2 separate regions of the Homo sapiens genome follow, and region 2 is linked to region 1. Evidence: fine-mapped expression QTL. Tissue or cell type: lung. Region 1 holds a variant in brackets; the other region holds the start of a gene. All regions are shown on one strand. Distances are from middle to middle.

The links. PIP is the estimated chance that this variant, and not a neighbour inherited with it, causes the effect.
Region 2: TSPAN4 starts here. The variant in region 1 is fine-mapped to the expression of TSPAN4 in lung (TOPMed, PIP above 0.99). The same link has a PIP of 0.9 or more in fibroblasts, nasal epithelium, pancreas, testis, tibial artery and tibial nerve.

Annotation. Positions count from the first base shown.
Region 1 is chr11:865,761-868,509 of GRCh38, reverse strand. TSPAN4 (tetraspanin 4) reads right to left here. Exons shown (of 9, transcript NM_003271.5): 7 at 2,685-2,749; 8 at 2,509-2,592; 9 at 1,399-1,948. The coding sequence ends at 1,880. CHID1 (chitinase domain containing 1) reads left to right here. Exons shown (of 13, transcript NM_023947.4): 13 at 1-651. Among named protein-coding and RNA genes, the nearest start is that of TSPAN4, 24 kb to the right of the region's middle. RefSeq lists an enhancer at 2,114-2,647. The variant A/C (reference allele first, on the strand shown) is at 1,590.
Region 2 is chr11:841,316-843,815 of GRCh38, reverse strand. TSPAN4 (tetraspanin 4) reads right to left here and starts at 964. Exons shown (of 9, transcript NM_003271.5): 1 at 901-964. It overlaps POLR2L (RNA polymerase II, I and III subunit L), which reads left to right and starts at 1,287. Exons shown (of 2, transcript NM_021128.5): 1 at 1,287-1,402. The coding sequence starts at 1,308. RefSeq lists silencers at 292-460, 446-675, 696-785, 896-1,525 and enhancers at 794-1,537, 1,538-2,283, 2,284-2,500.

The DNA of each region.
Region 1 (2,749 bases):
TGTGCGGCGGTTCATGCCTGTAATCCCAGTACTTTGGAAAGCCGTGGCGGGAGGAACGCTGGGCAACATGGTGAAACCCCGTCTCTACCCCCTAAAAATAGAAAAATTAGCAAGACATGGTGGCATGTGCCTGTACTCCTGGCTACTCAGGAGGCTGAGATGGGAGGATCGCTTGATGAGGTTGAGGCTGCAGTGAGCTGTGACCGACTGCACTCCAAAAACCTTGTCTAAAAAAACACAAGCTGCCACTGGCTTTGGGGCACTGACCTTGTCTCCCCAGAGGTGCTGACGCTAACATTCAAGTTGTTCTCGGGGGTCCTGTGGCTTCTGTTGGAGTGAGGGTGGGGGACACGCAGGTCTGGGAGGGTGGTGTGGGCCTGGAGCTAGGCATTGCCAGATCAGCATTGGGTGGAGGCAGGGGTGGGGATGCCACACAGGATGGGATGTCTAGAGCGGGCTGTGTCTCCCGGGGGGATGGGCAGAGGGTGGGGCAGGAATTAGCTGGAAATGAGATTGTGGGGTGCAGTTTGGGGATCAGATGCCCCAACCTGAACTGACCGTCATCCCTGTGGCCAGGGTCCCCACACAACCCTCACCCCTGGCTGTGAGAATCCTGAGGCACCTTGATGCATTTTTTTTCATGCCCTGTGACAGGTGCTTTGTGCTGCCAGCTCACTTAAAGGGGCAGAGTTCTAGGAACAAAATAGGGGAAAAGCACAGCCCCGCCTCGACAGCAGGCCCCAGGGTAGGGGGCGATGTGGAGGGAGGCCCGCCTCAGGAGGAGCCCCCGGGGTGGGGGGGTGAAGCAGAGGGAGGCCACCCCTAGCAAAGGCTGGCAGTTCAGGGACGGCCCCCCAGGGGCCTTGGCACTTTATTTTTTATTACTTTTTTTTTTTTTTTTTTTGAGATGGACTCTTCCTGTGTCATCCAGGCTAGAGTGCAGTGGTGCGATCTCGGCTCGTTGCAACCTCCATCTCCTGGAATCAAGCGATTCTCCTGCCTCAGCCTCCCAAGTAGCTGGAATTACAGGCGCCCGCCACCACGCCCGGCTAATTTTTTATTTTTAGTAGAGACAGGGTTTCACCATGTTGGCCAGGCTGGTCTCAAACTCCTGACCTCAGGTTATCCACCCACTTTGGCCTCCCAAAGCCGAAGGGATTACAGGTGTGAGTCACTGCACCCGGCCTCATCACTTCTTAGAGCTAATGTCATGATTTCCTTAAAACCAGAGGTCTGGAGACTGCTCTGCAGGCAGCTCCCCCAAGCCTGTGCACCAGGTGACCCCACAGCCCCAGGGCTCTGCCTAAGCACCGTTCATGCCAGAGGCTGCCCTGCCCCAGGCCTGGGTGCCAGAAGGGAAGATAGGGTAGGGAAGGCAGACGAGCAATAGACGCAAGGTTGCTGCTCACACTTTATTAAGATGCACCAGGAGCCCCACGGGCCCACTATGGAATGTAGGTGAGGGGTCCACGGCCCCGCCTGGAGCACCAGGACCAGTGGGGCCACCTCCAGGATGCCAAGACCCGGCTCCTCCAGCGCCAACCTGTTTTCCAGGAGGCTGGGGGCCACAGGCTGGCTCCCGTGTGAAC[A/C]CTGCTTTGGAGAATACGTAAATATAAAAAGTGCTGGAGGCCCCTCCCACCCCTGCCCTGGGTTCCGCAGCCAGCACGTGGCCACCCCTCCCAGGGGGGGTCCGGAGGCCCTGAAGCCACCTGAGCTAGGGCCTTCCAGAAACAGGGTTCCGGGGGCTCCAGGCACCTGTCCCTCCCTCCCTCCTCCCAGCATGGGGCAGAGCACCGAGGCTGGTGGTGGGAAAGGCAGCTGTGGGTGCGGCCATCTCCCCGTGGGCGTCCTTTTGGCAGAGAAGCGGGCGGTGGGCGGCCTACGCGCAGTAGGTGTCTGCCTTGACCACTTGGCAGTACATGGTCATGGCGAAGGTCAGGCCCAGGATCTGTAGGTAGGGGAGGAGGACTGGGCATGGCAGCTCCACAGGCTCAGGCCTCAAGCCCAGAGCAGTCCCTGTCCTCAGCAGGTGCCCTGGCCCTGACCCCGACCCCAGGGTGGGCGACACAGTGGCAGAGCCCTTCAGCTTCCTGGTGGCTTGCACGCCCCACCCAACCCCTGTGGCTCGAGCCACAGCACCCTCCCCTGAGCCTTGCAGGCATGAGGACACCCAGAACTTCCTGAGGGCTGTGGAGTTTGGAAACCAGGGGCCACTGGCACCAGGGCCCCAGCTGCCACCCTCTGTGCACTGGCCAGTCCTGGGCCACCGACCAACATGGACGACCACCGGCCTCCACCCCACACCAGCCTCTGCCTCTGTCCACTAAGAGGGAGCCCACTGTCCCCACAGGCCGTCCCTGCCCATCCCCCTGAACTCGCCCTCCTGCTTTTGCCCCGGCCTCCCCCGATCGTGGGTTCCTGGGGGCAAGGTCTTTGCTACTTTGTTCCCTGGGCTCAGAAGGTCCTAACAAAGTGGGGGCAGGGAGCCCGCAGGCCCCCAGGCCATACCTGCACCAGCGCCGTGCACAGCCCAAAGATGCCCACAGCCAGCAGGTTCTCCTGAAGCCACACCTTCACCGTCTCGTAGCACGGCTGCAGGGAGGGATGTCATGCGTGTCACGGCAGGGCCTGCTGGTCCCGCCCTCTAGGCCCCTACCAGCCCCCAGGGTGGGGGTCTCACTCACCGCCTTCCACCAGGTGCCGGGGGCGTGCAGCCCACAGCTCTCACTGAACTCCAAGCAGCAGGAGT
Region 2 (2,500 bases), 25 kb after region 1:
ACCCCAGCCAGAAGCCCCAGGCCGGCAAACCAGCCCAGAGCCCCCCATGGGTGCCGCTTTGCGGCCCACCCACCCCCACAGCCCACCTCGCACCTCCAAGGAGCCTTCTTTGCCTCTCACTGCACACCGACCCCCCATTTCCTCACCCCCACCCCAGGGGCACAGCAAGAAGGGTGCTGGTGCCAGCCCCCCCGCACTCCATCCGAGAGACACGGGCTCCTCGTCCCTCGTCGTCCGTAGGCCCTGAGCTCCAGGGCAAGCCAGAGCTGAGGCCTTCAGGGGGTCCTGCCAGTGCAGCCTCCGGGAGTCTGCCCAGGGATCCCCTGTGCCGGGGTCTTCCAGGTTCAGCTCAAAAAGCACCTCTTCCACGACTCCCTCCCCGACCTCCCTCCCGGGTCCCCTCTCCCCGTGCTCAGAGGCGCGTCTGAGCGTCGGGAGCTCGGGACGGCGAGCAGCCAGCAGAGCCGGGACCCGGGAGGGCGCACCCCGACCCCATTCCCGGGAAAGAGCGGAAAGAACGCGGACAGGAGCCCGGGGCGGGGAGCTGCCGGCGGGGGCTGTAATTGCGCAGCTGAGGCCAGGGCGGCGCCCCTAGGGGCTGGGCCGCGTCCAGAATGGGACCCCCGAACTCAGCGCCGAGAGCCCCGGACACCCCGCGGGCAGAGGCCGAGGCGGAGGAACCCACTACTCGGCGCGGCCAGGAGGGGCGGCAGGAAGACCCGCCCCGGCCCCCGCCCGCCCTCTCCCCGAGCCCCCGCGCCGGACCCCACTTGTTGCTGCGTGTCGGCTCTGGGCTCGAACTCGCGCGCCCCGCTCGCGTCCGGCTCCAGCCGCTCCCGGTCGGACACCTCCGGCCACGGGACCCTGGCCGCACGCCCCCACAACCCCCAGGCGCAGTACCTGCGCCGCCGCCTCCCGCTCGCGCCGCCCGCTCCCGCCGCGCAGCTGTCAGTCAAGCGGACACGAGAAACGCGAACCGCCGCCGCAGCTTTACGGCCCTGCTCAGACGCCGTAGCGCCGGGATGCACCAAGACGGTGGGCGGGGGTGTGCGGTCTGCTGCTGCCGCGGCCGCGCGGGCCCGGGAGCCCCGGGACGCACAGGCCCAGGAGCCCCGGGACGCACGGGAAGCCCCTATCGCGGCGGAAACTGCGGCCAGCGGTGGCGGGGCCGGTGGAGGGACGGCCGGAACAGCGGAGAACGAGCGGAGCCGATTCTCCCGCAACAGTGGACGCGCCCGGGGCGGGGCCTGGGGGGGTTCTTCGCGTGCGGCCGGGCCGGGCCGGGCAGTCTGGGACGCGCCGCCGCCATGATCATCCCTGTACGCTGCTTCACTTGTGGCAAGATCGTCGGCAACAAGTGGGAGGCTTACCTGGGGCTGCTGCAGGCCGAGTACACCGAGGGGTGAGGCGCGGGCCGGGGCTAGGGGCTGAGTCCGCCGTGGGGCGCGGGCCGGGGCTGGGGGCTGAGTCCGCCCTGGGGTGCGCGCCGGGGCGGGAGGCGCAGCGCTGCCTGAGGCCAGCGCCCCATGAGCAGCTTCAGGCCCGGCTTCTCCAGCCCCGCTCTGTGATCTGCTTTCGGGAGAACCTTATCCCCTGAAGTCTGGGGAAGAGAACGGAGTTGGGCTTCAAACCAGTGGTGTCCTGGGGATTCTAGGTGGCCTGGCGGGTCGCAGGCGTCTTGTCACCCGCAGTAAAGCCCTTGGCCTCCGCCCTATTCCCATCTCTGCCCCCAGGCCCACCCCATGTCCTGCAAACCTCGCTGCAGGACGGGCGGGCGCGGCGGCTGACATCTGTAATCCCAGCAGTTTGGGAGGCCGAGGCGAGAGGCTTGCTTGAGCCCAGGAGGTCGAGACCAGCCTGGACAACCTGGGGAGACCCTGATCTCCAGAAATTTATTTTATTTTATTTTTCTTTTTTGAGACGGAGTCTCGCTCCGTCGCCCAGGTTGGAGTGCAGTGGCGCGATCTCGGCTCACTGCAACCCCCGCCTCCTGGGCTCCAGCAATTCTCCTGTCTCAGCCTCCCGAGTAGCTGGGACTACAGGCGTGTGCCACCACGCCCGGCTAATTTTTGTATTTTCAGTAGAGATGGGATTTCGCCATGTTGGCCAGGCTGGTCTGGAACTCCTGACCTCAGGTGATCCACCCGCCTCGACCTCCCAAAGTGCTGAGGTTACAGGCGTGAGCCACCGCGCCTGGCTCTATCTTTTTAATTCGCCGGACATGGCGGTGCACACCTGTGGTCCCAGCTACTTGGGAGGCTGAGACGAGAAAATCGCTTGAGTCTGGGAGGCAGGTGGAGGTTGCAGTGAGCCAAGATCACGCCACTGCACTCCAGCCTGGAAGAGAGAGTGAAACTCCGTCTCACGCACACACACACACAGAAAAAGAAATGCAGGGTAGACTTGCTGACCACCCTCATCAGGCTTTGTAGGGGAGGCGTCTTTCTCCTGTGCTTGTCCCTTGGTGCTGCTGTCACCACGGTGCCTGAGTCTTGGTGCC